Regions from separate parts of the Homo sapiens genome. Here region 2 is linked to region 1. The links come from fine-mapping of genetic effects on gene expression. A gene starts in region 1. The other region holds a variant in brackets. All regions are shown on one strand. Distances are from middle to middle. Region 1 holds the start of MR1 (major histocompatibility complex, class I-related). Region 2 overlaps MR1 (major histocompatibility complex, class I-related).

Region 1 (16,002 bases):
GAGAAATATGGTCTGTTGACAATACTGTCCAAGTAAGTATTGTGCTTTATTTATTTATTTATTTATTTATTTATTTATTTATTTATTGAGACAGAGTCTCACTCTGTCACCCGGGCTGGAGTGCAGTGGCACAGTCTCTGCTCACTGCAACCTCTGCCTCCCAGGTTCAAGCGATTCTCCTGCCTCAGCCTCCCAAGTAGCTGAGATTACAGGCGCCTGCCACTACACCCAGCTAATTTTTTTATTTTTAGTAGAGATGGGGTTTCACCACGTTGGCCAGGCTGGTCTTGAACTCCTACCTCATGATTCCCCCTGCCTTGGCCTCCCAAAGTGCTGGGATTACAGACATGAGCCACCGTGCCTGGCTGTGTCTTTCTTTCTTTCTGGGTTTTTTTTTTTTTTAACTTCAATCTAATTCTGATGCCTGGTTTTGAAACAGTTGTTCTCCACCAGCCAGCCTTGACTTCAAAGTCCAGGCACCTAAAGGCTGGACTTGCTTTTTCAGTCACACCCATCCACCACTGGTTCAGCCCAGCGTGGCTCTGCTCCAGGACATCACAGTCCCTTCCTCTTCATTTGCCATGGGCCCAGTTACCCATCTGGTGCCTCCACAGGAACAAGTCATGCTTGCTCCTTAGCTGGGCCTTTAAAATGTTACCTCTGCTGTGGTGGGAAGTTGATTGACACATGTTCAGTCAGTAACTCACAACAGAAAAGATGAGGAAAAGTCCAGGTACCCTCTCTCTCCTAGTACATTAAAACTTGTGATAATTTATATCCCACCAGGATTTGTTGCAGACATAATCAGATTTCGAATCATTTGGAAAGGCCAATATTTTACCATTTTTGACCTATAAAAATGGCAATTTCATATCATTTGATCTAATCTTCCATTTCTCTTTTCTCGCCCTAATAATTTTGAAATTAAGTCTCTCTCTCCCTTTCCATGAACAGATAGATCATCAGCATCAACTCACTTATTAAGCTGAAATATACAATTTAGAATTTGGTATTCTGTCTAAACCAGTCAAGCTACTTCTCAAAAGGCATCTCCTGCCCAGTCTCATCAGCTTCTGACAGATAGTGCTGGAGAACCCGAACGACACAACCAAAAACTCTTAGGCTAGGTGCAATGGCTACTTGATAGTTCTAAATCATGTTCCCTTTAACCTGTCCATTAACCAGTTGGGCCATTCTTACAAAAGGCTGTGAAAATCACTGGATTGTAAAATAATTGATGAAGTGTTTTCACTTCATCCATGAGGGCAATTTTTCTTTTCTTTTTTCTTTTTTTTTTTTTTTTGAGATGGAGTCTCGCTCTGACACCCAGGCTGGAGTGCAGTGGCATGATCTTGGCTCACTGCAACCTCTGCCTCCTGGGTTCAAGCAATTCTCCTGCCTCAGCCTCCAGAGTAGTTGGGATTATAGGCGCCCACCACTACACTCAGCTAATTTTTGTATTTTTAGTAGAGACAGGGTTTCACCATGTTGGTCAGGCTGGTCTCGAACTCATGACCTCAGGTGATCCACCCACCTCAGCCTCCCAAAATGTTGGGATTACAGGCGTGAGCCACCGCGCCCGGCCTCATGGGGGCAATTATTTATTTAGTGTCTACTATGTACAAGGAATTGGAGGCAATGTTAGGAAGAGAAGAACAAATCAAATACCAGCTCTTTCCTCCAGGAACTTACAGTATTATTGGGGAGCTAAAGCACATAACAAATAAATGAATTCCACCACACACGGCAACAAGCAGCAAGCGCCAGAAAAGAGTACCAATGGAGTGCTCCAGCCACTAGGAGAAGAGAGACCGTGGTCCCATGAGAAGGGATCCACTGGGAAATGTTCCAAGGAGGTGGCAGATCAGATGGGCCTTCAATGAGGCATAAAGGGCAGCAGCATCTTAATCATAGTCATCACAACTGTATTTGTTTATTGAGCACATACCTTGTGTTAGGTACCATTTTAAGCCCTTGATAAGCATGGGTTTCACTTATTCTTCTAACAAACTTTTGAGGTAGGTCTTATAATTCCAACCCACAGATAGAAAATAGGTGCAGAGAGGCCGGGTGTGGTGGCTCATGCCTGTAATCCCAGCACTTTGGGGGGCCAAGGCAGGCGGATCACCTGAGGTCAGGAGTTCAAGACCAGCCTTGCCAACACGGAGAAACTCTGTCCCTACTAAAAATGCAAAAAATTAGCTGGGTGTGGTGGCGCATGCCTGTAATCCCAGCTACTTGGGAGGCTGAGGCAGGAGAATCGCTTGAACCCAGGAGGCGGAGGTTGTAGTGAGCCGGGATCACGCCATTGCACTCCAGCCTGGGCAATAAGAGCAAAACTCCATCTCAAAAAAAAAGAAAAGAAAATAGGTGCAGAGAGATTAATTGCCCAAGATCATCCTCAGAATCCATAAGTGAAGGAACCAGGAATCACACTGTGATCTCTCCATGGGAAGTCCCTCTACCTTGAGACTACCCAACCCTCCCTAGTGTAGGGGAAGCTTTCCAGGCCAGGCTTCTAGCCCCTGGATTATCACTGCTCTCTCCTGCCCCCTTGTGTCAAGGATGACTCACTGCCTCTGATTTCCCAGTCCCTGGGGCCACAGGCTCCAGACCTTCCTACACACAGGTGGCCGTGAGTCCTGATTGGATAACCAGGTCAACACAGTCTGATTATTTATTGGCTCTCTCAAGAAGTCCAATGCCTTAATAAGGTCAAAATGATTATGATTCCTGGGAATGACTCTTTAGAATTTCGAGCATCGTGGGAATGAGGGGAGAAGTAGGTGGCAATATTTTTAGTTAAGGGGACCTTTGGACACATCTCAGGCCATGTTCATGGATGGTTCTATGTGCAGCAAGAACCATTAGTCCCCTCTCCTAATGACATGTCTAACTAACTACAGGAACTTAGAGCATAAAAGTGGCGACTGTGACAAGTTTGGCTTGTGAGCTACTCTTCTGAGGCTACCCTTTTGAAGGTTGCCAATGTCTCACTTCATATAGGTATATTCTTTTCTGAATGTCCAATAAGCACAGTCCTAGCTGCTGGAAACAGAGCAATGAACACATGAAAGTCCCAGCCCTGTGAGATAATTTCTAGACAGGAGATTGGCAATAAATACATATATAATACAAGGTCAGGTGGAGATAAAGATTATGAAGAAAAGTAAAGCAGAGAAAAGAGAGTGTGGAGAGGAGAAGGCCTGATCTTTTAGATAGAGGGACCACAGCAGGTGGCATTTGAGCAGAGATGTGAATGGAGTAAGAAAGTGAGCCCTGTAGGACTATGTGGAGTTTTGGAAAACGAATGAATGAGCTCTGGTGTCTTTTTTCCCTCAGTACTCTCTGTACACAATGATGACTATATGTCTTATGTTTCCCAGAAAATCCCGATTTTATAAATTTTATTTTTCTAAAATGATCCTTTGAAGTTATAACAAAATGTGACTTAATATGTATACTCTTGAAAGATTTTCCCCGATAAATATAAATTCATACATCAGAAAAAACATCCTTTGTCATCTTTCTCAATTTGAGTTCCCTAAAATAAGTGTTCAAAGAGTCATGTGTTTGATCTTTAACTTAGGCTCCTTTCCTCCAGCTCTTAGCAATACTGTGGGGTAAGAGGATTGGGGTCAAGTGAGAATAGACAGATATTTCAACTAGTCAAAAGAAAAATCTACAAATTAGTTGAATTTCTCAAGTTTAGATAGATTCAATGCCAATTAAGAAGAGGGCCTTAGGGGAGTGAAACATTGTCTTGGAGAAATTTCTATGGCATATACCTTGGCAACAGCTCCATGGAAACAGACTGAAGTCTATCTAATAAAGTCTAAAGAAAAAGCCCATATTTTCTCATGTTAACTCTTTGAACTCAAGGTCACTTCTAAGCAGATAATATGCAAGTCTGTTTTTTAACAGTAACCCAGTTGGCAGCTTAGGGAGCTTATCCATCATCAGACCTCGCCTGTGAAGGACTCCACCATTCATGAAGTAGATTGATATAGCAGATTTATACAGCCATAAAATTATGAGTAATATCAAGAGACTGACCTTGGTTATGTCGAGATGAAACATACAAATCACATATGGCAATGCATGAGAAATCTCATGCCAGCCCCCAGTCTGATTACACCCACCCATATCGCCAATTCACAGTTTCACACAGGCTGAAATGAAGAACAAGATGAGTTGTAAAAGCATGAAACACCTTTTTAATACAAATCCTGCAACTACAGTAAGCCACAGTTTTGAATTTGCAGTCGTTATTACTGCCCGAGCTCTCTATGGCTCCCAGTCAAATAACTGTGATTTCTTAGGGACATTACCTCCGAACATAAATTCACTCAGCAAACATTTACTAAGTGCCTGTTGGGCACTAGGTATACCAGAGAAATAAGAAAAAAATGAAGATATCTCTTTCTGTCTTTAAGGAGAGCCTCAAAGAGAAGATTTTTGTAAATGGAAAATTACAGAACTGTGAACAGGAGCCATGGGAGCACAAAGGAAGGAGGAGTCAACTGCAGGCTGTGGAGTTGATGAAAGCAACACACTGAAAGTGATATTGGAGTTATGTTGACATTTCCTGGAGTAATGACCCACAACCCTGCAGTATCTCTTCCCCGTGTTTCCCCATCTATTACTGGTATATAGCTCCCACTCAGGGCTAGCACTAGGCATAAATATCAAGTAGACTGAGTCTTCTTTCATAATCTCATATCCTTTTCCAGCCAATATCCCTCAAAGCCCAGGAATGTTCAGTTAGGGTCCTAGCAGGAAACAGCCTTCAAGCCAGATGGGTCATGTGAGGAGACCTTAATGAAGGGACTCCTTGCAGAGATATGGTCAAGGTTAACGGAACAAACAAGGATGATGGGCATCTGCAGGCTAACAACTATGGGAAGCCATTATCACCCCTAGGGCTTAAGAGATAAGAATAGCAAATACCGTTACTGAAGCCCAATGGGAGCTAGAACCATGAAGAAGGGGTTATTCAGGGAAGACAGCATTACAGAAGAACATAGCTACTGCCAAAGACATCACAGAAAGTGGGGAAGGAGCAAGAAAGATGTATCCCAGCCTCTCTTTCCTCCCTGCTCTCTGACATCTCTCCTTTCAGTGTCTCCCATTGTATGAACCCAAGCAGAAATCAGCTTGCAAGAGAGTCTAGGTGATGCAGTCTAGCAGTCAGCCTCAAGGACACAGAACAGAACAGAGAAGGATGCACTCTAAGGAGTCAGAAGGAGAACAGCCAGCACCAAGTGACCTTCCCTTGCCTTTATAACTTACTTGTTTTATTTCCTGTCCCCCCAATTATCAAAGTGACAAGTCTTCACACCCAAAGGAGCAATGACATTGTGGAACAGCCCTGGACCGAGGGCCAGAAGATCTGCAGTCTCCTTCAGGTTGCTCCTTATGTGAGCGTGGTCACTCTCTAGGCCTAGAGAAAAATCTAGGCCTCATCTTTAAATGGGGATATTTTCTTCACCTACTACAAATAGTCAGTGAGATTGTCATAGGAGATAATATGTTTAAGGAATATTATTCCATATTATTGGAGAGTTCTTTGAGAATCACATGCAGGTAATATATAAGCTTTATTATTTCCAAAAATATCACCCTTTGCCTCTCTCCTCCTTTCCTCTTTCATCTTCTGCCTCTTACCCTCACCCCCAATCTTTCCCATAAATGATGACACTTTCTGGATTAAATTTTCATGGAAGCAGAGACTATGTTTGTCTTGTTCGCTGCCATATCCCCCAAAGTGCCTGGCACATAGTAGGCCATCAATCAATATTTGAACAATTAATATATGGATTTTTTTTTTTTGAGATGGAGTCTCACTCTGTCACCCAGGCTAGAGTGCAGTGGCATGATCTCGGCTCACTGCAACCTCCGCCTCCTGGGTTCAAGTGATTCTCCTGCCTCAGTCTCCCGAGTAGCTGGGATCACAGGTGCGCACTGTGCACAGCTAATTTTTTGTATTTTTAGTAGAGATGGGTGTGCCGAGCTAATTTTTTGTATTTTTAGTGAGATGGGGTTTCACTATGATGGCCAAGCTGGTTTCAAACTCCTGACCTCAAGCGATCCGTCTGCCTCGGCCTCTCAACGTGCTAGGATTACAGGTGTGAGCCACCACTCCCAGCCATATGATTTAAAATTTTTTTATTTGTATAAATTTATGATGTACACATGCAATTTTGTTATAGCATAGATTGTGTAGTGGTCAAGTTGGGGCTTTAAGGTATCCATCACCCAAGTAACACACATTGTACCCATTAAGTAATTTCTAATCATCCACCCCCCTCGCCCTTCCAAATCTCCATGGTCAGTCATTCCACTCTCTATGTGCATGGGTGATTTGAAAGAACTCCTTCCTCTCATGTTCATCAGTCACACCTATGGTGGTGGCCAAGTCTAAGTTCTGGACACTGCCCACCAGTACCAGTCCTCAGCCCAGGGAGCAAGTGATTAGGGCAGAGAAGCCTGGTGGTTCTAGCCCATGGGCCCTTTCCCCTATTTGAGGCAACAGAAGGCATTTGCTTCCCCAGTGACTTGAGCTCCCCGAATAATGAAAAACTCTCCCTTCTACTTGATTAATACTTCTCACAGTCAGTAAACAAACCCAGAGCCATGGTTTTATCTTTCTTGGATCTTTTATTACAGGTAGGGCTTGTGTTGAGGAAAAACATAAATAAACCTGAACAATGGATCTACTCCACTGTTAATGCCCCTGAAACTCTGACTACATCCTCATGAGACTCTGGAAGTTAGAAAAGAGGAGAAACAAAAGTAAAAGAAAAAATATGAGCAGAAAAGAAAGGAGGCCATGCTCAGAGGGAAAGTGAGGAAGTTCCAGAGTCTTTCTAGAACGGCTCCCCCTCCCTCAGAAGGTGGTGACATCAAAATCCTACAAATATGAACTGGGAAACTGTTCAGGCAATCCATTGCTCCTGGAGTCTGAGTGTAATACATACACGTTTCTGCCCCTGGCTTCTATATTTTTCACCACAAGTTTTAGGAAGAAAAGCTGTGCCTTCTAGGCTGCCTCGACTTTGGAGTTAGGAGAGAAGAGGACGTGGGATACTCACGGGAATCGCTGTGCTTCACCATTAACACAATGATGAGAGGTAACAGGAACGCCATCAGTTCCCCCATAGTCCTTCTCTTTCCGGGTTCTTTTAACCAAAAACTGACAGGTCCCTTCTGAGAACCTCTTGGTGACACACAAGGCCTTCTCCCAATAAGAACAGGGGAAGATATGCAGTGTCATCAGTTGCTAGGTTAAAAAAAAAAGATAAAATGAAAGCATGAACACCTTCTTCGGTAACTTTTAAGTCTTTGCTGGTTTCAGACACTGCTTGCTCCTTTTGGTGTATCTATCTTCACCCTATTCCCAATTTTTAAATATTTATGGAGCATAGTCATGTTCAAAGCACAGAGAAACAAAGATTAATCATATCTGGTCAATCAGGGAGCTCAAGCTGCTGCCTCTGCTTCCCTGGAGCTTAGAATTTTGCTTAAGGGTCAGTAAGAAAGAGTCACAGTTCCCACGGCTTGGAACTCCCTGCTCTGGCTCCCTATGATGCTGAAGTCTCTGTCTGAGATAGCAGGTGTCACTTAGATTGTCCCGTAATCTTCAACTTAGGTCTGTCCTCCCTGCTACTCTAGCACCCAGCACAATAAGCTCAAAACACTTACTGAATAAAAGAAGGCAAGAGAAAGGCCTACAGAAGATTCTGAGGGGCAGCCACTCAGCTTGCTCAATCAGCAATCCCCAAGATCAAGCTGTGGCTACACTGTCATAAGGAGCACATGACAAGCTGGAAAACAGCAGCTTAAGCTTGTCCAGGGAGCTAGGGAACAGGCCCAGACAGGAAAGAGGAAGTAGACATGAAGGGGAGAGGTGAATGGAGGCATGGCCATGAGGCAGGCAGGCTTGAGCTGGGTTCAGGGACCTGGGTTTGCCTCCCCACTATTTGACCATGGGCAGAATCCCAAATTGCACCAAGGCCTGATTTCTTCAACTTTAAAAGCAAATCCTGTCATATATTTCACAGAGTTGTTGAAGGATCAGAAGTTCTGTTTATGATGCATTTAGTAGGTAGTAGAACCTTATGTACCGGTTGTATGGTAGGTTGAGAATTGTCGCCCCAAAGATGTCCACAACCTAATTGCCAGAACCTGTGGATATATTACCTTAAATGGCAAAAACAAAATAAAACAAAACAAAACCCTTGGCAGATATGATTAAATTAAGGATCTTGAGACAGAGAGCTATCCTGGATTATCTGGTGGACCCAGTGTAATCAGAGGGGCCTTATTAGAGGGAGGCAAAAGGGTCAGAGTCAAGGAGATGTGACAATGGAAGCAAAGGTCAGAGTGATGATGCCATTGCTGAAAGAAGGACATGAGCCAAGGAACGCAGATGGCCTCTAGAACTAGAAAAGAGAAGGAACAGATTCTCCTTAGAGCCTCCAGAAGGAACACAACACTTTGATTTCAGCTGATAGGACACATTTTTGGACTTCTGTCCTCCAGAACTTTGAAAGAATAAATTTGCATTGTTCGAGGCCACTAAGTTGGTGGTAATTTGTTATAGCAGCAACAGGAAACTAATAGGTCTACCTTTACCCAGAATAAAATAAGAAGCCAAATAATGAAATTAACATTTGGCAATCTCTCAGCGGCCCCTGGCACCTTCTCTTCTCAGATCTTTGTATTTCTCTCTTCCTTTCCTTTCTGTTTCTTTACATTGTTTTTCCTTTTGTTACTCATTTAACAAATACAGTCACCTGGATTTCTCTTTTGGAAAACTCCCCCAATATTCCCAAATGTCTCTCAGCACTGGAATTCCATGGCCATGTATTTTTTCCTTTGAATTTTTGTTAATATCTTGTTCCAAAATGCATTCCATACCATAACCTGCTGTACTGACATTAAAAAGTAGGTATGAGGCCGGGCGCGGTGGCTCACGCCTGTAATCCCAGCACTTTGGGAGGCCGAGGCGGGCAGATCACGAGGTCAGGAGATCGAGACCATCCTGGAACATGGTGAAACCCTGTCTCTACTAAAAATACAAAAAATTAGCCAGGCGTGGTGGTGAGTGCCTGTAGTCCCAGCTACTCGGGAGGCTGAGGCAGGAGAATGGTGTGAACCCAGGAGGTAGAGGTTGCAGTGAGCTGAGATTGTGCCACTGCACTCCAGCCTGGGTGACAGAGCAAGGCTCCATCTCAAAAAAAAAAAAAAATGTAGGTATGTCAACGATGTCTTTCTTTTTTTTGAGACAGAGTCTCACTCTGTCGCCTAGGCTGAAGTGCAGTGGTGCCATCTCGGCTCACTGCAACCTCCGCCTCCCAGGTTCAAGCAATTCTCCTGACTCAGCCTCCTGAGTAGCTGGGATTACACACCCAGCTAATTTTTGTCTTTTTAGTAGAGATGGGGTTTTCCCATGTTGGCCAGGCTGGTCTTGAACTCCTGACCTCAGGATCCACCCACCTTGGCCTCCCAAAGTGCTGGGATTACAGGCGTGAGCCACCACACCTGACCGATGTCTTTCATTTTTTAAGTCATTGTATTCTAATTGCAAATTAGTAAATTTAATCCAGAGTACAGGGCAAATACATATAAAAAACCCAGAGAGTGATAAGATAAAAATCACCCATCAGAAAAAATTGCTGTTGGCCGGGCATGGTGGCTCACACCTGTAATCCCAACTTTGGGAGGCTGACGTGGGCAAATTGCTTGAGCCCAGGAGTTCAAGACCAGCCTGGGCAACATGGTGAAACCCCTATCTGTACTAAAAATACAAAAAATTAGCCAGGTGTGGTGCATGCGCCTGTAGTCTCAGCTACTTAGGTGGCTGAGGTGGGAGGATTGCTTGAGCCAGGGAGGTCAAGGCTGCAGTGAGCTGAGACGCCACTGTACTACAACCATGGCAACAGAAAGAAAGAAGGGAAGGAAGGAAGGAAGGAGAGAGAGAAGGAGGGAGGAAGAAAGGAAAAAATTTGCTGTTAACATATTTTAGTGTATTTCTTTTCAGTGGTTTTGCTGACTACATATGTCTGCATATAAGCATACCTTTATTTGTTCATTTTACCAAAAAAGGGTTTTACGTCCTAATAGTATTTTGTAAATTCTTTTCAAATTTATATTTTCCAATATTAATATGCAGTTTTTAATAGCATAGCTTTAATAGTCCTTAAAATTTTTAATAGATTCAATTATGCCAAGATCTTCAAGGACAGGTAAGACTGCCCCACTAAGCTGGGAGGCACTGAGGTAGGGAGAATCCCTCGCATTCTCTTTGTGGAAAAACAAGCCTCACCTCTGAGCAATAGTCTAAACTTAAATCTCAGGCCGCACTTTTCAGAGTGGGTTGTGCTTATCCTGTTCATTATAAATCCCTTTATGTGTTTGGCTTTTTAATACCTGATTTATTATATGTATTTTAAGGCCCCTCTGAGGAATCTGACTCATTTGCAGTTAGTGCAATTCATCCTTAAAAACCAAATGATGAATTATCAAGTTAGCAAAAGGGTCTTGTTTGTTAAATAATGTTGTTTTCAACATAATATATTTTATTATATTTAATCAGTAGTTTCCCCTTGGCTATTTCTTTTTTAATTCAGTAGAAGTGTGTGTGTGTGTGTGTGTGTGTGTGTGTGTGTCTGTGTCTGTGTCTGTGTCGAGTTTGATTTGAGCCCTTTTCTGTGGGTAGGTAAAATCCATTTGCCAATTTTTGGCCAAGGCTAGTCCTTGTACAAATGGGAGTAGAATACTGTAGCAAAGAACATGGGTTCAGGAGTCAAACTTATTTTCAAATGAGGCTCTGACATTTCCTACCTATGTGACCTTTGACCAAATTATTAACTTCTCTAAGTCTGGGATTTCTCATAGAAAATGGAGGTAATAACCAATTCTGCCTTACAGGATTATTGTGAGGATTCAATGAAATCAGCAGTGGTGGAACCAAGAAGTGACTTGTCACTTGTTGGGGCATTAGAGTACTTTTACTACACACGCATAATGGCCATCAGCTGTCTTAAGTAATCCCAAATAAACCTATAATTTAAGAAAAGAGGCCAGGCGCAGTGGCTCACGCCTGTAATCCCAGCACTTTGGGAGGCCAAGGTGGGCAGATCATGAGGTCAGGAGATCGAGACCAGCCTGGATAACATGGTGAAACCCCGTCTCTACTAAAAATACAAAAAATTAGCCGGGCGTGGTGGTGGTCGCCTGTAGTCCCAGCTACTCGGGAGGCTGAGGCAGGAGAATGGTGTGAACCTGGGAGGCAGAGCTTGCAGTGAGCAGAGATCGCACCACTGCACTCTAGCATGGGCGACAGAGTGAGACTCCATCTCAAAAAAAAAAAAAGAAAAGACAGGGGTCTCCCATGCCACATCAAGTCCCCTAGCCCTGCTGTCCAACCAAATTACATTCTAAAACCTGCCCCATATGGGGATTCTGGAGCTTCTGAAGATAATGCATGTGTGTCACTGTATTTGTTTTCACACTGCTGACAAATACATACCCAAGACTGGGCAATTTACAAAAGAAAGAGGTTTATTGGACTTACAGTTCCACATAGCTGGGGAGGCCTCACAATCATGGCTGAAGGCAAGGAAGAGTAAGCCACATCTTATGTGGATGGCAGCAGGCAGACAGGAGCTTGTGTAGGGAAACTCCACCTTATAATACTGCCAGATTTCATGAGACTTATTCGCTATCATGAGAACAGCACGGGAAAGACCTACCTCCATTATTCAATTACCTCCCACCAGGTCCCTCCCACCACAACACATGAGAATTCAAGATGAGATTTGGTTGGGTACACAGCCCAACCACATCGGTCACTTAGCACAATGCCTGGTACATAGTATGTAAATATTAGCAATCACTAGTACTATTATTGCAATGAGCCAGTTTACCAACACAGATTGATTTTTCTTTCCTTATACACAGTCACATTCATAAAGGATGGTAAAGAACATACCTCCCCTTCCTATAGTGGTTCAAATCCACCGTCTTGTCAAGAAATTCACTGAATTCCAATAACGTATTTCAGCTTTTTAGTACTCACCAATTTCCATTCATTCAGACCCTCCTAACTTGCCTTATTCTAAACAGGATTTAAAACTGTTATTTATTTATTTATTTATTTATTTTTTTGAGACAGGGTCTCACTGTCGCCTAGGCTGGAGTGCAGTGGCGTGAATATGGCTCACTACAACTTCTGCCTCCTGGCTCAAGTGATCCTCCCACCTCACCCTCACGAGTAGCTGGGACCATAGGCATAAGCCACTACACTTGGCTAATTTTTGTATTTTTTTTTTGTAGAGATGGGGTTTTGCCATGTTGCTCAGGCTGAAAACTGCTAACTTTTGATGTACTTTTTCGTATGTGGTCACTTGGCTTTTCACTTCTCTTTTATTACTTTTTCTCTTCTTTTTAAAAAACTTTTTGGATTTCTGACTATCCAAGTAAATATTTCACTGTAGTAGTTGACAAACTTTAAATAGATTTCTTTTTTCCTACGTGTAAAAATTTTCTATGTACCAAAACATTTTAATGTATAAGAAAGAACAGAGCTGAAATTGTATCATATGTATAATTTTGTGTCTTGCTGTTTTTACTCAAGCCATTCCTATGTCATTACATACTTTTAAACAACATTTCTAATGACCACCAAATGGATGTTCCACAAATTCTCCATCATTCCTTAGTGCTGAATATGTAAATTGACTGGAATTCCTCCTTGTTTATTTTAAATCAGTGTGTAGAGGGTGACAGTGGTGGAGGTGTTGGTAACAAACAGGAAGAGGAAATAAATCATGGCCAGTGTGTTTTGGATATGTGTATGGATATTTTCTGTGGTTGGAGGTAGGAAACATAGACAGTCATAGCCAGATCAATGGAACTTAACATAAGTGGAATGTTCTGGAATATGTACATGTATATCAGGGTTTCTAAAAGGTTGGATAATGATGAAGAGTATGATATCCTATATCTATGTTAACACTTTTCTCCCTTTCTTTACCTTGTTTCAAGAAGGATTTAGGGTGAACTCAACAAAAACAAAACAACTCAATCAAAAATGGGCAAAGGACTTGAATAGACATTTCTCCCCACCCCCCAAAAAAGATATACAAATGGCCAATAAGCACACGAATAGGTGCTTAACATCACTAATTATTAAAGAAATGTGAATCAAAACCATAATGAGATACCACCTCACACCTATTAGTACAACTGCTATAAGGGAAAAGAAAACCCAGAAAATAACAAGTGTTGATGAAGATATGAAGAAATTGGAATGCGTGTGTCTTTTAGCAGGAATGTAAAATGGAAAACAATATGACTGTTCTTCAAAAAAATTTAAAATAGAATTACCATATCCAGCAGTTCCACTTCTGGGTATATATCCAAAATAATGGAAAGCAGGGTCTCAAAGAGATATTTGTACACCAGCGTTCATAGCAGCATTATTCATTATAGCCAAAAGATGAAAGAAAGCCAAGTGTCGTCCACTGATGGATGAATGGACAAGCACAATGTGGTATATATACAATGGAATATTAGGCTTACAAAGGAAGGAAATTCTGCAATATGTAGAATGAATGAATGAACCTTGAAGATATCATGCTAACTGAAAGAAGCAAATCATAAAAAGACAGATCCTGTATGATTCCACTTATGTGAGGTACCCAGAGTAGTAAAATTCATAGAGACACACAGTAGAATGGTGGTTGCCAGAGATTGTTGGGGGAGAATGGGGAGTTGTTTAATGGGTATAGAGTTTCAGTTCTGCAAGATGAAAAGAGTTCTGGACATTGGTTGCACAACAAGGCAAATATATTTAACACTACTGAATTGTACACTTAAATATGGTTAAGATGGTAAATTTTATGTTATGTGTATTTTACCACAATTAAATTTTTTTTTTTTTTTGAGATGGAGTCTCGCTCTGTCGCCAGGCTGGAGGGCAGTGGCGTGATCTTGGCTCACTGCAACCCCTGCCTCCTGGGTTCAAGTGATTCTCCTGCCTCGGCCTCCCAAGTAGCTGGGACTACAGGCACGCACCACCAAGCCCAGCTAATTTTTGTATTTTTAGTAGAGATGGGGTTTCACCATGTTGGCCAGGATGGTCTCGATCTCTTGACCTTGTGATCTGCCCGCCTTGGCCTCCCAAAGTGCTGGGATTACAGGTGTGAGCCACCATGTCCGGCCTCATAAATTTAAAAAATAAAAAATTTAAAAAATAAAAAATTATTCCCATATATGATCCAGTTGTTCCTTATAACAGGCTAGTGAAGGAGCAGGCTGAATGTCATTATTTCAGAGTAGGGGAGATCCCCTTGTAGGGGTGTCATGGCATTCCCGCAGCTTCCAGGGGCAGGGGGTGGCTACCCACTGCAATCCCTCTCAGGTCTATCCTGGCATCCCCAGTGATATGGTTGGCTCCTTTCTGATCCTCAGCTCATTTGGCTGCCTGTGCCTTATTCTCTGTGTTGCCATCTCCTTATTTCTGCAGAAGATGCATTGCAGGACCCAGTGTGCTCCCTTCCTCATTCACTCTCCTAACTTTGGAGACTCACTCAGGAACCAGAGGTTCTCCTGGCTGCCCACTCAGAACTCTACAGAAAGCTCAGAGTTGGCATGTCAACCTCCCCCAGAAAAATGAACAGAAGTTAAGTCCAATTAAGAGTTTCGGTTTGAGGAATTCTGACAAATGATACTCTCATGTAACACACACTCCGTCAAGATACAGAGCATTTCTAGTACCCAAGAAAGTTTCCCTTCCCAGTCAAACTCTGTCCCCCAAGACAACCACTGTTTTGATTTTTTATTCCCTGAGAAATTTAAATTATTCTTTTGGGTTGGGGGTGGGGTAGGGGTGGGGGTGTGGGAAGAGATGGGTTTTTGCTGAGTATTCTTCCCAACCTATTGTTTATGCCAGGACGTGGGTCCTATTAAATGAAAAAAAAAAAAAAGAAAGAAAGAAAGAACCTCCTTTGTTTCTCCTTGCATTTTAGCCATAGCTTCCCTTTCCTTGTGGGCAGTGGAGGCCAAGGTCTAGTTTGAGAGAGGGTAAAGGAGGGTGACACATTAAAGAAAGGAACACCTACACACACACACACACATACACACATTTTATATCTTGACACTCCACTATCTCCATTGTTGGTGCTTTTTCTAATCCCCTAATTATGGGAACCCAAGCCTCTGTCCTCTATCTTCTATTACTACTTATAAAACTCTGGCCTGTCATATGTGGTCCAATTAAGAAATTCATGGAACAGATAATAAGAGGCCGTGTCAGGCACTTAGGTGATAATAACATTAACATAGTATCCTGTCCCTCCAGGAGTTTACTGTTTGGTGGGGATAAATGACATGCTAACAGCTAATTTACATTCACCCTAAATCAAATCCTCCTCTTGTGTTCTCTTTCTTGATGGTTGGAACCAACACTACCCATTTACAACCCCAGAAGCCTTCCTCCCTCTTCTTTCATCAATTCCCCCATACCCTGAACCAATCAGTCACCAAGTATACTAACTTTGCCTCTAAAGTATGTCTCAAATGCATCACTCTTCTCCACCTTAGTTGTCACAAGCCCAGCTCAGGATACCCTCATCCCTCCTCTGGACCATAACCTCCTAGCCACTGAAGCATCTGTCTCAAATGCCAATCTGACCCTGTCAATTCCCTCAGTCCCCATGGGGAACTGTCCATAGGAAGCGTCCACTATTCTGAACATTACAAACAAGGGCCCTGATAATCTGACCCTGTCCACCTCCAGGCTTAGCTCCTGCTGCCCCCATCCTTTTCCTTCTACTCCAGCAACATGGCCCCCTTCTCCTGGCTGCTTCTAGTCACTGCTTAGGAACCCCCTGCCCCAGCCCCGAAAACACACAAATATACTGGTATCTTGTCGCTGTGTTTCTATGGCAACCTGTGCCCTTCTCTCACTGTGTGTCTCTCCCACCAGTCTGT
Region 2 (16,002 bases), 29 kb before region 1:
GATTACAGGAACCCACAACCACCCCTGGCTAATTTTTGTATTTTTAGTAGAGACAGGATTTCACCATGTTGGCCAGGCGGGTCTCAAACTCCTGACCTCTAGTGATCTGCCCACCTCGACCTCTCAAAGTGCTGGAATTACAGGCATGAGCCACTATGCCCCGCCTAGAATCTTAAACCAGTGGAAACATCCCCAAAAATCCCCAAACAAATGATATTTAATATTATGATAGTGCCAAATTTTAATAGGACAACCTTTTCAGATTATTCCACTGTTAATGGATCCACTTAAGTATTTTTAATTTACAACTTACTGATTGCAAACTAAGTGCAATTTTTTAAAAAGAGGTTTTAGGTAGCTATAAAAGACACAGGTCACTTTAACTGGTCAATTTTATTATTTGGCTAGTCTTTACGGAACACTCTATAGCAATTAGTTTAATGTATTTAGTTAAACCAGATAATTACAAATATCCTAACAGAAATGAGGAGGTGCATTGTCCTTTAATTAAAAAAAATTTACTAGCCAGGTGCGGTGGCTCATGCCTGAAATCCCAGCACTGTGGGAAGCCGAGGCAGGCAGATCACCTGAGGTCGGGAGTTCGAGAGCAGCCTGACCAGCATGGAGAAACCCTGTCTAAACTAAAAATACAAAATTACCTGGGCGTAGTGGTGTATGCAAGTAGTCCCAGAGACTGAGGCAGGAGAATCGCTTGAACCCGGGAGGCAGAGGTTGCGGTGAGCCGAGATTGCACCATTGCACTCCAGCCTGGGCAACAACAGCAAAACTCCATCTCAAAAAAAAAAATAATAATAAAATAAAATAAATTTACTTTGAAATAATTATAGATTTGCAGGAAAGTGCAAAGACAACACAGAGAGGTTCCATGTACTGTTCACCAAGTTTCCTCCAAGGTTATATCTTACATAATTATGGTACAATATCAAAACCAAGAAATTGATATGGTTCAATATATGTGTATAGTTCTGTGTCATTTTATCACACATGTAGATCTGTATGACCACCACTGCAATCAGGATGCAGGACCATCCCATCACCACAAAGCTCTTTCTCATGCTACCCCTTCACAGTCTACTCATGCCCTCCCCTGAGCCATTCCTAACCCTGGCAACCACTAATCTGTTTTTCATCTCTATAATTTTGTCATTTTGAGAATGCTATATAAATGGAATTATATGGTAGGTGACCCTTTTGAGACTGGCATTTTTTACTCTGCACAATACCCTTGAGATTCATCCAAATTGTTGCATGCATCAGTAGTTCATTCCTTCCTATTGCTGAGTAATATTCCATGGCATGGATGTACCATCATTTAACAGTTCACTTATCAAGGGACATTTTGATTGTTTCTGGTTTGAGTCTATTACAAATAAAGCTGCTATGAGTATTCATATACAGATTTTTATGAGTACATAATTTTTCATTTCTCTAGGGTAAATGCCCAGGCATAAAATTGCTGGGTAAGTGTATATCAAGTTTTTAAAGAAATGGCCAAACTAATGGGTACAAAAAAACAAAGAATGAATAAGACTTACTACTTGATAGCACAATATGGTGACTATGTCAACAATAATGTAATTGTATATTTTTAAATAATCTTTCTTTCTTTCTTTCTTTTTTGTTTTTGAGACGGAGTCTCATTCTGTCACCCAGGCTGGAGTGCAGTGGCGTGATCCTGGCTCACTGCAAGCTCCGCCTCCCAGGTTCACGCCATTCTCCTGCTTCAGCCTCCCGAGTAGATGGGACTACAGGCGCCTACCATCACGCCCGGCTAATTTTTTGTATTTCGTTTAGTAGAGACGGGGTTTCACCGTGTTAGCCAGGATGGTCTCGATCTCCTGACCTTCTTGTGATCTGCCCGCCTCAGCCTCCCAAAGTGCTGGGATTACAGGCATGAGCCACCGCGCCCAGCCATATTTTTAAATTATCTAAAGAATGTAATTAGATTGTTTATAATTTAAAGGATGAATGTTTGAGGAGATGAATACCCCATTCTCCATGATGTGCTTATTTCATAGTTCATGCCTGTATCAAAACATCTCATGTACCCCATAAATATATACACAAAAACTTTATAAAAAGAAATGACCAAACTGTTTTGAGTTTTTCCACATCCTCACCAGCATTTGGTATTATCACTTCTTTTTGTTAAGAGACAAAGGTCTCTCTCTCCCTCTCGCTCCCCTACCCTCCATACCCCAAGCTAGAGTGCCGCTCGCCCGACAGCACAGGCTAGAGTGCTGTGGCACAAACACAGCTCACTGTATCCTTGACTTCCTGGGCTCAAGTGATCCTCCAGCCTCAGCCTCCTGAGCAGCTGGGACTACAGGCAGATTTCACCATGCCTAGCTAATTTTTTTTTTTAATTTTTTATAGAATCAGAGTCTCACCATGTTCCTTAGGCTGATTCTGAACTCCTGGACTCAAGTGATACTCCCAAAGTATCACTTTTGGACTCAAGTGATACTCAAGTGAGCCTACCAAAGTGCAGGGATTGTAGGTGTGAGCCACCGCACCCAGCCTTCTTTTATTTTAGCTGTTCTTAGAGATATGCAGTGATAGCTCATTGTGCTCTTAATTTGCATTTCCCTAATGACTAGAGATGTTGAACATTTATGTCAAGACATGAGGTTTATCATTGGTTTCAGGGTTTCTTTTGGCAAATCACTTTACTCACTCTAGCCTCAATTTTCTCATATGTTAAATGAGAAAATTGCCGGGCGCGGTGGCTCACGCCTGTAATCCCAGCACTTTGGGAGGCCGAGATGGGTGGATCACAAGGTCAGGGGTTTGAGACCAGCCTGACCAACATGGCGAAACCCCGTCTCTACTAAAAATACAAAAATTAGCTGGGCGTGGTGGTGGGCACCTGTAATCCCAGCTACTCAGGAGGCTGAGGCGGGAGAATTGCTTGAACCCGGGAGGCGGAGGTTGCAGTGAACCGAGATTGCGCCACTGCACTCCAGCCTGGGCGACAGAGAGAGACTCTGTCTCAAAAAAAAAAAAAAAAAATGAGAAAATTGAACTATATGACACTCAATGGGCCCTCCAGCTCTGCAATTCTGTGTGCCCATAGATCTACCCTGGGTGAGTTGTTTTTGCAAGGTGAGGGAGCTTATACTTTTTCCTTTATGCACCAGCATCTCCATATACTAAGAATCAACAAGTAGCGAATGTTATCCACGGGTTTCACTGACATGTCCATGAAATGTGTGGTAACTTGCTTCATTTGGCCCTTTAGGCCTTGTTCAGCCTTTAAGTCACATCATCAAAGTCAGAGGAAAAAGATTCAAACTTTCCTAAATTTATCAGGGCCTTTATTAATTTTTGATTCATTGCACAGATGTTTGAACTCCTTTGTTCCCAAGATTAAGTACAGAACATAGTGTCGGCGAAAAGAATCGAACTCTGTAAAATATTTGAAGAGATTTATTCTGAGCCAAATGTGAGTGAGTGACCATGGCCCAGGAGGTCCTGAGAACATGTGCCCAAGGTGGTCAGGGAGCAGCTTGGTTTTATATATTTGAGGGGGGCATGAGACATCAATCGAATGCATTTAAAAAATACATTGGTTTGGTCCAGAAAGACTGAACAACTCAAAGTGGGGGCTTCCAGGCTATAGGTGAATTTAAACATTTTCTGGTTGACAATTGGTTGAGTTTGCCTAAAGACCTGGGATAGATAGAAAGGGAATGTTCAGGTTAAGATAAAGATTGTGGAGACCAAAGTTCTTTTTAAGTCTTACAGTGGCTTAAAGACAATAGGGGACAAATGTTTCCTATTCAGATCTTAGTTAATCTTTTTAGGATTGGGAGGGTCTGGAAGAAAAAGATCTAGCTATGTTAATAGAGATTCTTTACAGATGCAAATTTCCCCTGACAAAGAACAGCTTTGCAGGGCCAATTCAAAATAAGGCAAAGAAACATGTTTTGAGGTTTAAAATATATATATATTTAAATTAATATTAATATTTAAATTACATTAAAATTGATATATTTAAATTAATATTAAATATATTACATATCATATATATATATGTTTTTTTGAGATGGAGTCTCACTGTGTCACCCAGGCTGGCGTGCAGTGGCGTGCAGTGGCGTGATCTCGGCTCATTGCAACCTCTGCCTCCGCTGGGTTCAAGTGATTCTCCTGCCTCAGCCTCCCGAGTAGCTGGGATTACAGGTGACTGCCACTGCGCCCATCTAATTTTTGTGGGTTTTTTTTTTTTGAGACGGAGTCTTCCTCTGTAGCCCAGGCTGGAGTGCAGTGACGCGATCTCGGCTCACTGCAACCTCTGCCTCCTGGGTCCCGGTTCAAGCAATTCTCCTGCCTCAGCCTCCCAAGTAGCTGGGATTATAGGCACACACCACTATGCTCAGCTAATTTTTGTATTTTTAGTAGAGACAGGGTTTCACCATGTTGGCCAGGGTGGTCTTGAACTCCTGACCTTGTGATCCGCCTGCCTCGGCCTCCCAAAGTGCTGGGATTCAGGCGTGAGCCACCACGCCTGGCCAGGTTAAAATATTTTGATTTTCTTCTTTGTCTGGTAATGTTATGTCAGAGTCAAGTTGGAAAATAAATCATGATATGTAGGGTTAAATAAAACCCATCTGATGAGAATTTATGATTTATAGAGCATGACTCCCCAGTCCCCTTAGATAAGAATTTGGGCAAGATAAAAAAATCAGAGTTTAGTCCTCAATAGTTTTAAGTGGATGACACCTCACAGTTTTGGTCAGGCATTGATGGAGTGGGCCTACTGTGTGCAGATAGGACAGTGCCCTGTGTGCAGATAGGACAGTGCCCAGACTCAAGACAGTGTCTTGAGTCTGAATCATGCCTCTGCCACTTATTAACTATATAACCTTGTCAAGAAATACAATTTATCTGAACTTCAACAAAATAATAATAATAATACCTGCTGCCAACGTTGTTATGAGGAATAGAAGTAATATATGTGAAGTACCCAGTGCATAGTAAGCACCCATAAATGGTGGCTGCGATTATATGGGACATGGGGAGCAGTCCCTGGAGAGCACGTAGAGGAAGACACATCCCAGATGCCATTTCTTTGCAATATGCTTGCACACACACATCTCCTTTAATCCCCACTTTGACACTGGAAGACAGGTATTGACTAGCCCCGGGTTTTATAAAAATGAGGCTCAGAGAAGTTAAACAACTTAAGATCACCCTGATACTAAGTGAAGGACACAGAATTCACATTGTGCCCTTAAGGGGTTTATAGTCCAGCCAGGGAGATAAGCCGAGCAGAAACAGATAAATACCAACACAGAATAGCTAAGTGTCAGTTGAGTGGCAGAGCTGAAAAGCACTTAGGCGTTTAGTAAGGGAATTATTTCTCTGAGGATAGGCTATCAGGAAGACAAAAGGAAACTAGAGGATTAGAAGTTCCTCTGTCTCACTGAACATCTCTGAGTTCCTTGCTGTCGCCATCGCCACTGCCTATGGGTCCTCTTAGCCCAGCCCAGCGGCTGCAGGGAAGGAGGCAGTGCTGAGCCCTTCATCCTCCCCATGTCCTTTGTTTCATGGCATATTTATGTGCAGGCCCTCCCATCTCACTTGAAAGTTTTATTCAACCTGTGTCTTCAGTATTACTATGAAAGCTCACTGTCAGAGTTGTATTTCTTTCTTTCTTTTCTTTTTTTTTTTTTTTTTTTTTTTTTTTTGAGACAGAGTTTCGCTCTTGTCGCCCAGGCTGGAGTGCAATGGTGCAATCTTGGCTCACTGCAACCTCTGCCTCCCAGGTTCAAGTGATTCTCCTGCCTCACCCTCCCAAGTAGCTGGGATTATAGGCACCAGCAACCACACCCAGCTAATTTTTTTGTATTTTTAGTAGAGACGGGGTTTCACCATGTTGCCCAGGCTGGTCTCGAACTCCTGACCTCAAGTGATCTGCCCGCCTTGGCCTCCCAAAGTGCTGGGATTACAGGTGTAAGCTACCGTGCCCCCAGCCAGAGTTGTATTTCTTCTGTTAGCAGAAAACCCAGGGACTGTTTTATAGAAATGCATTCTAGATTACAATCTCTAAAATTATTTTCTGTGATGTGAGCTTGATTTTTCTATAAGCATATGTCTGGGCCATTTTTGTACTTGCTAATTTTCAGAACATCATTGTGCTGTGTTGCCTACAGAGTCTGGCTTGTAGGAGCAGCAGTTCATTTTGTCAATATGCATATGTACTGAGTGCCTACTATGTGCCAGGCACTGAAGTGTCAGGCCTTATGGCGCATATATTTCATGAATGGTTGATTAACTAATGAAGGCCATAAGAATTTGATTTAAATATCAGTATTTGTGGCAGATTATTAATAAGAAACTGGGGTAAAAAAAACTCTGTGGCTTGAATGAAAATATGGTGTATACCATGCCACACAGAAAAAACGAATAATTCCTTGTGGCTGGGGGCAGTCTCTAAAAATGTCATCATTAGGCCCAGAAACATGTCATCTTGTAGACTAATTTCAAGTCTGTGAAGCTGCACTAGTTTACAGATCTTTGAAATTTGATCTCAATTTCAGTTGCAAAGACCTAAATTGGATTAGAACAGCTTGCCTGTCTTCTTCAGGGATCCTCAGGGACCAATGACCATTCAGTCTTTTAACAGTAAGGTGAAGGGCTGCCCATGTGCTCGGCCTTGGTGGGTTACATCTGGTTTGGCAACTTCCTGTTGTGTGTAACACAGGGACTGTGCATTCGTAGCTGTTTCGTGAGTAATATGCAGAGTGCATGTGTTGGGTATTTTAAAGTACGTGAGAGGGTTGTGTTTCAGCAGCTGATGGGATGCCAAATGTTTGACTTTTTATTATTCCAGCCCTTCAGATTTCCCCAGAATTGTCACCTTCTAGAGCGTGTGTCTTGCCAGTGTGTTCCAGGAATTCTCTATTTATGCCACTGTGATGTTGCTCAGAAAACAACAGAGCTTTCGGTTAGTTCAAGTAAACTTAGAATCTGCGCTGATGCCTCAGAAAGGAAGAAAGGCCAGGACGGCCTCGGCTTGGGTGG[C/T]ACTCTTATTTCTCCCTTGGTTTCACTTCCTTATTTTCGTGGCTTCCCATTTCATCCTGTAGCCTCCTCTCAGAAGCTGTTTCCCCCCTTCCTACTCCCTTCCCACCCCCGGGTTGTTTCCCCGGTTGTTCCCACACTCTAGCCCATTTGTGTCCTCAGAGGTCTGGCCGCTGCCACTGCACCTGCCTCAGACCCAGTGTCACCTCGCCAGGGCTTCAGCCAGCCTGACCTTCCAGCTGCCACCCAGCAGCTCAGCTTAGGGACTCAGAACCTTCTGGCCCAGACCTTCATACCCAACTCCCGCCCAGGGGCAAATGCAGAAGCCTCTGCTGGTGCAGCCAACACGGAGTGGGGGCAAGGCGGAGAGGAAAAGCAACAGCTCAGGGTGTGGTAAGAGTGCTCAGGGTGCTTCCCAGCTCAGGGCATTGGTAAGAGTGGGTGGAATTTGCATGTTAAGAACTTTCATTAACCAAATACCCAAATGGTGACAGAAAAGCAAATTCAGACTAGTTACATTTCTGGAAGGTTTCAGATATTTGGGCCCCCAAGATGGCTGAGAACTCATTTCTCAGCACCTCTTCTCATAGCCTTCGAGAAAAACAGTACCTCCCATAAGAACCTCCGAATTCTATCTTTGTCTTTAATATGTATGTGTTGGGTGGGGTGGGGGTATTGATGGAATGTTTCAGATCACTAATCTCACAGACAATGCAATGACAAGATAAAGTTTATTAGATGGAGAATGTTAATACAGCTGAAACCTTTGAAGAATTCAGACCAGTCCTCAAACCATTCATCCTGAGTACCTGGAATGTTATATGATCTTGAGTGGGATATTTCCCCTCTATGACTTCAGCTGTAAGATGACACTGTTCTTTTGTACCAGTACATGAAGACTAGCTAATTAAAATACTATACTAGTTCATTCAAAAAGTATTTACTGAGTTGCTACTACGTACAAGGCATCATGCAAACAGACTGTGCAGTATTACATAAAATTTTTAAAATAGATTTCCATAAATAAACACCATGATAGGATTATGTAACATCTTCCAGGGAATTTTAACCGTTTGGATGTACTACACAGTGGTTCTGGTTCTACCAGTCTAAATGAATTGACTTGTTTTTTTTTCCACCATCACTCCTCCCTTTCAATTCAATTCATTCATTCTGGTGTGCAGCCCATTTCTGTCTATTTTCTAATGATATGACCAGAGCCACCATGTAGGCTTGTGCCCTGCACAAGGATAGATACCCCACTGGGGAACAAACGGGACCAAAATCTACTCTGTGTTCTGCTGGCCAAGCCGGGTGACCTGGCCTGGGCTGGCGTCCTCCCAGAAGAAGGGTTCATTTTTCCAGTTTGCACACATGTGCTATTTGTGGGTTAGCTGAGGCCCTGCTTATGTCTTCAGTTGGTTCACAAACCAGAAACAGAACAAATGGCCATCATTTGATTACAAATGTAATCAAACTAGATTTACAACCAAGGCTTGCTGAGTGGCATTATGGGTTTTATCCTGTTGCATGGCAAGCCGCTCATGCACGGGCTGTGCTCAGTGTCCTTTTTCCTCAGCCATGCCAGCCATGGGGAAGCAGGAGGGGAGCTTGTTGGAGAAGGTGGCCTCAATGAGAGCCTTGGTGCATTCCCCTGAAGCCACAGTTTGGGGCTTCTCCCTCAGCAGGGGTCTCCACAGTCTGAGTGTTTTCAGAAATCTTATATCCAGGGGACCCCAAATCTTATGTCCAGGCCCCAGGGTCTGAACTCATATTTAAGTACTGAAAGGCATCAGCATCTCCCCTCTGGTTGAACTTGACCTTCTTACTGAGAACCAGCCAGGCAGGCATCAGAAGCCTCAGGCTCCAGAGGAGAAGCTGGTGGGCAAATAGGTCAGGAGCAACTGCTTTCACCATCAGGGATGAAAGTTGAAGACCAAGAACACTTCCTTGTCCTGTGGTGCAGGGGTTGGGATGGAGGGGTGAGTCTTATAAATGGAAGAGAACTAAGTGTTGTGATTTAAAGGAAGAACATTTGCCTCCTGCCCCCAAATGCTCCCAAACTCTCCAAAATTCCACAGATTCCTTTGGCTTAACTCCTTTCACAGAGGTAAGCTAAGGTAGTCAGTCTCACTGTAGTTGCGGTGAATTCATTTAATGATCTTGGTTTCCTAACTGCTAGATAATCCAGTGGAGCCAAAAAATTTTGGTGGATTGAGGGAACCTACAGAGGTTGGGTAGAGATGTGTTAGGAGTTGAATTGTTTCCTCCAAAAAATTCATGTTGAAGTTATAACCCCCAGTACCTCAGAATGTGGCCTTCTTTGGAAATAGGGTTGTTGCAGATGTAATTTGGGAAGGTGAGGTCATCCTGCAGTAGTAGAGTGGGTCCCTAATCCAGTATGACTGATGGCCTCATGAAAAAAGGAAATTTGGACACAAAGCCATGCATGCAGGGAGAACACCAAATGAAGACTAGAGTTACGCAGCCAGAAGGCAAGGAACAACCAGAAGATAGGAGGGAAGCCTGGAACAGATCCTTTCCCAGTCCCTTTAGAGGCAGCATGTTTCTGCCAACACTTCATTTTGAACTTCTGGCCTCCAGAACTGTGAAACAATAAATTTCTGTTGTTCCAAGCCACCCAGTTTTTGTGGTACTTTTAAACGACTACCCTTGGAAACCAGTACAAGGTGGAACGGGGAGACGATGGAGAACATGACATTGTGACATGTTGCATCTTTCCCAAAATGGCCACAATGATATCTCCCAACTACATGCTCTTCTTACAATGTAACTCTGACAATCTTCCTATTGAGTGTTGGGTTCTATACACCCTCTTTTTGAACCTGAGCAGGATTTTATGACTTCTTCACCAATGAGAGTATCACAAGAATGACATTTTGTGACTTCCAAGATTAGATTATATAAATGCTATGCACTTTGACTGTGATCTCTTGGGATACTCACTCTGAGGGAAGCTAGCTGCCATGTAAGCAGTGACTGCCCTGAGGCCACCATGTTGTGAGGAAGCCCAACCCACACAGAGAGATTACATGGAGAGTTCCTGAGACTACATGGAGGAGATGTAGCTGATGCCTGGCCACCACCCCTGGCTGCCCCATTTCTGTTCCAGCCACCACTTGCCTCCAACTCCATGAGAAGCCAGAACTGCTTACCCAAGCCATATCCAAATTCCTGACCCATAGAAACTATGAAAGAAAATAAAATGGGTATTGTTTTAAACCAATAGGTTTTGGGTTTTGTTACACAGTCTGTGGGGTTTGGGGCAACCAGAAGCTAGAAGGACAATGGAGAAAGGGAGGCCAGAGTGAAAAGGAGATGCAGAGATGTTACAGAGACATACAATGCTCAAAGATGGCAATTTCCAAAGAAAGAGAGGTGAAGGCAGCTCAGGCAGTGGAATCATCAACCTCTAAAAAGCACAATGTACTGAATGTCCTGAAGCTATTGGGGAAAAAAAAAAGATGAAAAGGGCAATGCAGTTAAGTGGGAAACACCTGGGCTGGGAGATGCCTGTGCTTCTTCCTAGCTCTGCTGCCCACAGCACATGGCTATGGGCAAAGCCCCCTGTCCTCCTTGGAGAACATTCTGTGAACTAATACACTGTGTGTGAGAAAATAGCAAACTCCAGAGAGCAGGTGCTAACAAGCAAGAATGTGTCCCCTTGCACCAATTCTGGGGTCATCAAGCACTCTACAGATTGTGATTTAGTTGTTCTTATGTAGATTTTCCTGCTGGAAGGTGTACTGACCAGCTGAGACAGATATCTGACCCACTTAGCAATTGTGTTTCTCACAGTAAATTAATACATTGGCACTCCACTTTATATATCCATCTGATCACTTTGTGGGGACACTAGACCTGCATATGTGAGGACAAAGACCCCAGACAGTGGTTTTCAAAATAAGGTGTGACTGCTCTGTGTGACTCTGGCAGAAAATGATCAGCTGGCCTCCCTAGTGGACAATCTGTTCCTCATAGCTACAAGTGCAAAAACATCTTCTCTCAGGCCAAAAAAAGAAGAGGAGAAACCAAGTCATTCCTCAGAAATAAGGAAAGGATCACAACTTGGAAATCATGGGAGTAAGAGGAGAGAGGAAAGGAGGACTGGCCCCTGATGGGAGAGCTCAGAAACTCTCGATGGAGTCTTGTTGGATTTTTCACCCTGCTCTTTAAACTGCTTTCTCTCCCTTAAATGTACCACATCAAAAACATCTGCCATTTAAATTTACCACATCTTGGTCTATATGCACATCAAAAACAAACAAACAAAAAAAACAAAAACAGGTAATAAATACAGTGGAGTTAAAAAAAAAAAAAAGAACAGAGTTGAACAGGTTTCTCATCTAGTGTTCTTGATCCAAAATATTCAGTAAAGAAAATTCAAAGCCAAAACATAGCTGTGGCAATAGCACAGTTATTTGTTTTTAATGTTTAGATCATGGTGTCAAATATTTCATAGGTTATGATTACTGAGCATCTGTACTCAACAACCATGAAGTAATGAAGCAATAACAAGGCTAAAACAATTAAGAAGTAATATAATCTTCAACCATCTATAGTAAAATGAAGGTTGCAGAATTTTAGGTATTACTTACTTATTTTATTTTTATTTTTTTGAGATGGAGTTTCACTCTTGTTGCCCAGGCTAGAGTGCGATGGCGCGATCTCGGCTCACCACAACCTCTGCCTCCCGGGTTCAAGCGGTTCTTCTGCCTCAGACTCCCGAGTAGCTGGGATTATAGGCATGCGCCACCATCCCCGGCTAATTTTGTATGTTTGGTAGAGACAGGGTTTCTCCATGTTGGTCAGGCTGGTCTCGAACTCCCGACCTCAGGTGATCTGCCCACCTCGGCCTCCCAAAATGCTGGGATTACAGGCATGAGCCACCGTGCCCGGCAGTATTTTTTTTTTAATCATCTCTTTATATTATGATTCTTTTAGTATTATAAAATCCCCCAGGAAGAAACATAAATGCTACAAGTGCATAACAGAATGTTTTGTCATCACATCCTTGTCCTTGCCTCCTCTTCATCCATTTGGACATATTATGTGTTAGGTGTAGGGCAAGGCCTTGGAAACACAGAGGCTTTTTATCTGTGTCTTTGATGAGAGTATCCTGCAGTTGCAGAATCAAAAGGCATTTACATAGATACATTATCACCTGTGTCTATGTAAATATGTACCTTTTCACTTTAAATGCCCACCCAAAAATATATTACATCCTAACTATTCTGATTGTAAGAAGAAACCATTCCAGAAATAAACTTGCCTACATTCTCTTCACAGTGCAACACTGCTTAAAAGTGGCACGGAAATTGCCCATGGCAACCCTAAAAACAAAATAAACACAACTGTGCTTCTATGCAACTCAACAGGCACCGGAAAAGAGAGATGTACAGTGGTAGCTTCATATATGGAATTACATGGGACAGTGGAGCAAGGAGGAAGCCTGGCAGGTGAGCTCTTAGAGGCCTGGCACACTGAGGGTATCTTTCTTTTTTTTTTTGGAGACAGAGTCTTGCTCCGTTGCCCAGGCTGGAGTGCAGTGGTGTGATCTCGGCTCACTGCCACCTCTGCCTTATAGATTCAAGTGATTCTCCTGCCTTAGCCTCCCAAGTAGCTGGGACTATAGGCACATGCCACCATGCCCAGCTAATTATTTGTATTTTAGTAGAGACAGGGTTTCACCGTGTTGCCCAGGCTGGTCTTGAACTCCTGAGCTCAGGGAATCCGCCTGCCTCAGCCTCCCAAAGTGCTAGGATTACAGGCGTGAGCCACTGTGCCCGGGCTGAAGGTACCTTTATCTGAGGCTGTAATGATTAAAGCCAAAGGTCAAATGTCACAGTCAAGGTCAAGGGAGAGCAGAGGTCAAACCTGAGGTGCAGGACAAAAGCCACTTGTCAAAGTTCAGGTCACTGAAGTAAGCATTAGGGCTCAGGTGCAGAGTCAAACGGGGTCAGAGAAGTAGGACCGAGGAATGTGTGACTGGCAGCCCCAGGGCAAGTAGCTCCACATGGCAGGGCAGTAGGTGAGGCCTCAGGGGTTGGGGATAGTAAGGAACATTAAGGGGATGTTCATTCTCACCATGGGCTTTTATTGATTCCCAGTGCATATGTATGAAGACAACCTATGTAGGAAGGCAAGTCATGCCCAGCTACCATGAGCCAGCACAGGAAAGGCAGAAATGAGAATTGAGCCCTCTCCTGACACCAAATATACTGTTATTATTATTATTATTATTATTATTATTATTATTATTATTTTGAGATAGAGTCTCACTCTGTCGCCAGGCTGGAGTGCAGTGGCGTGATCTCGGCTCACTGCAATCTCTGCCTCCCGGGTTCAAGCAATTCCCCTGTCTCAGCCTCCCAAGTAGCTGGGACTACAGGCACGCAACACCATGCCCAGCTAATTTTTTGTATTTTAGTAGAGACAGGGTTTCACCATATTGGCCAGGATGGTCTTAATCTCCTGACCTCGTGATCCGCCCGCCTTGGCTGCTCAAAGTGATGGGATTACAGGCGTGAGCCACTGCACCTGGCCATACTGTTATTTTTACATTAAAATAGTGCAGCTGGGTCCAGGTCTCTGTAGTTCCACTGGAGGTGATGATATGTCTGATAATTATTTCTCTTAATTTCCCACAAAAGACAAAAAGGGTGAGACTACCTCCATAGATCCAACCGGGCAGATTACCAAGATTCCAAGCTCCCAGGCAGGGTTGCTGTGAACAGCAGGGGACTTTGGCTTTCTCTCAGGCCAGAAAATGTATAAAAATAATCAGTCCATTCCCAGGCCATTGTAGAAACCTGCCGGCTACTCTCATGGAGTGATCCAATCCTACCTGTAGGGTCACAGTCATGGTGCCCATGATATTCAAAGCGCTTGTACAATAAATGTTCCCATGAAAGATGAATGAGAAAGGCCATTTTATGAAGTACTGAGGTTCCCTTCACATGGTGTTCAAGTGGAGGCTGGAGGCTCAAGTCCAAGGCATTGCAGAAGACAGTTCCTGCTCTGGTTGAAAAGATTCCTTCCTGCTCTGAGAATCTCCAACTAGTTGCAAATCATCATTGACAAATAGAATGTAGGGAAGCGTTGTGTCATGAGACAAGCTGTATTTAAAGTCAACTCTGATAAAACAGTCCATCAAAAGAGACTGAAAGCTGACAGTCTTTTTGGAGCCAAAGAACAAAGAACATTTTGTGGCTCCTCTGTTGCTGCCATAAATGCTCAATCCCATTACTCTCATGTATGTTGTGGGTGTCGTCAGGACCTTCAAGCACTAGGCTTGACTCTATGGGGGACAGAGGATAACATGGCTCCTAGAGGAAGGAGAACTGGAAAAGAGGGATCTGCAATCATCGATCTGGTGTTGGAAGGTAGATGGCTCCATTTTGCTCTGAAAGGAAAGGGGTTTTTAGTCAGATTACAAGAATGTTTCCTCACAGCTCAAAAATAAAGTATGCAGTGTTCAGCAAAATCTGAGAAACAGGCATCGACAGTTTTAGCTTGCTTTGTCAAGATTCTCTTAGTACTTGACAAACTTTAGCTCAAATTTGTAAACTCTATAAGATAAAAAGCAGGAACTCACAGTCTGTATAATTATTGAGAGAGGGATGTCATTGTAAAAAAATTTTTTGTTTGTTTCACTATCATTTATTGGATTAGGATTAGTGCTGTACTTTATCTATAAAGAAAACATTAACAACCCATTAACTCTCTGAGCTGATTTTCTTTTCTTTTCTTTTCTTTTTTCTTTTTTGAGACAGAGTCTCGCTCTTGCTGCCCAGGCTGGAGTGCAATGGAGCGATCTTTGCTCACGGCAACCTCCGCCTCCCAGGTTCAAGCGATTCTCCTGTCTCAGCCTCCTGAGTAGCTGAGATTACAGGCATGTGCCACCACGCCCAGCTAATTTTTTTTTTTTTAATATTTTCAGTAGAGGCAGGGTTTCACCATGTTGGCCAGGCTGATCTCGAACTCCTGACCTCAAGTGATCCGCCTGCCTCGGCCTCTCAAAGTGCTGGGATTACAAGTTGTAAGCCACCACGCCCGGCCTCTGAGCTGATTTTCTAGTAAAAGGGTTGGTTTTACTTTGATCTAACAACATGCTTTTGTACAGTTATCACCTGAATTGGAGTTGAGGTCTATGTCTATGAAGGAAAACCAAACTTCTGGTCCACTTTGGGTTCAAAGCATGGTCTCATCGGTACTATCCTGTGATCAATTTGAGCAATTAGTGAAGCCAGAGCCAGGAGATAACCTTACCAGGCTCTATTGTAAGCTCTATGAAAACAGGGATCGTATCTGTCTTGTTCATTGTTATATCCCAGCAACCAGTACAGTGCCTGGAGCACAGTAGGTCATTAATGTATACTTACTGAATGAATTTATGTTATTCCACATTATCAAGAGCCTATATATCTCCTACTTCTCCTCCCCTTTTCCTTACTCTAAGTCCCATTCCCTGAAGGTATCTACTCTTACATATTTAATGTTTTGAATAATGAATTTACAAGGAAAAGGACTTTCATATGCTTGGGATGAAAGAATGGTGGTCAAAATGGGAAAACTGACTGAAGTCTTGAAACAAAGGACACTGCCCCAGAAGTCAATAGTAATTAATAATAAAAAGATGGTTTGGAAAAAGACAAATCAAGATCCCCATATCTTCTCTGACCCAACTTCTAGGGGGACAGTTCCCCTGGACAGATGTACTAGTTTGTTGATGTCAGGCATCACCTATGAAAAGAGACCACTCTCCCTGTAAGCTTTATCCATGCTTTGTGTCCCCTACATGGTGGGAGGGTTGTCCCAGGTCCTTCTGTGATCCCAGCCTGAGAGCCAAGCCATTTCTGAATGGAGGAGGGAGCAGCAGGTGCAGAAAATAAAACTGGAGAGATGCAGGAGAGTCTGCAGCCCCCTGGATCCCTT

Evidence for each region.
Region 2: its variant is fine-mapped to the expression of MR1 in whole blood (INTERVAL, PIP above 0.99). The same link has a PIP of 0.9 or more in monocytes after LPS.

What each region holds. Positions count from the first base shown.
Region 1 is chr1:181,025,167-181,041,168 of GRCh38, reverse strand. It overlaps MR1 (major histocompatibility complex, class I-related), which reads right to left and starts at 7,186. Exons shown (of 6, transcript NM_001385161.1): 1 at 7,095-7,186. The coding sequence starts at 7,161. RefSeq lists enhancers at 7,277-7,386, 7,517-7,616, 7,817-8,006.
Region 2 is chr1:181,053,693-181,069,694 of GRCh38, reverse strand. It overlaps MR1 (major histocompatibility complex, class I-related), which reads right to left. Exons shown (of 6, transcript NM_001385161.1): 6 at 7,757-14,470. The coding sequence ends at 14,430. Among named protein-coding and RNA genes, the nearest start is that of IER5, 27 kb to the left of the region's middle. RefSeq lists enhancers at 6,848-6,897, 7,538-7,667. The variant C/T (reference allele first, on the strand shown) is at 7,048.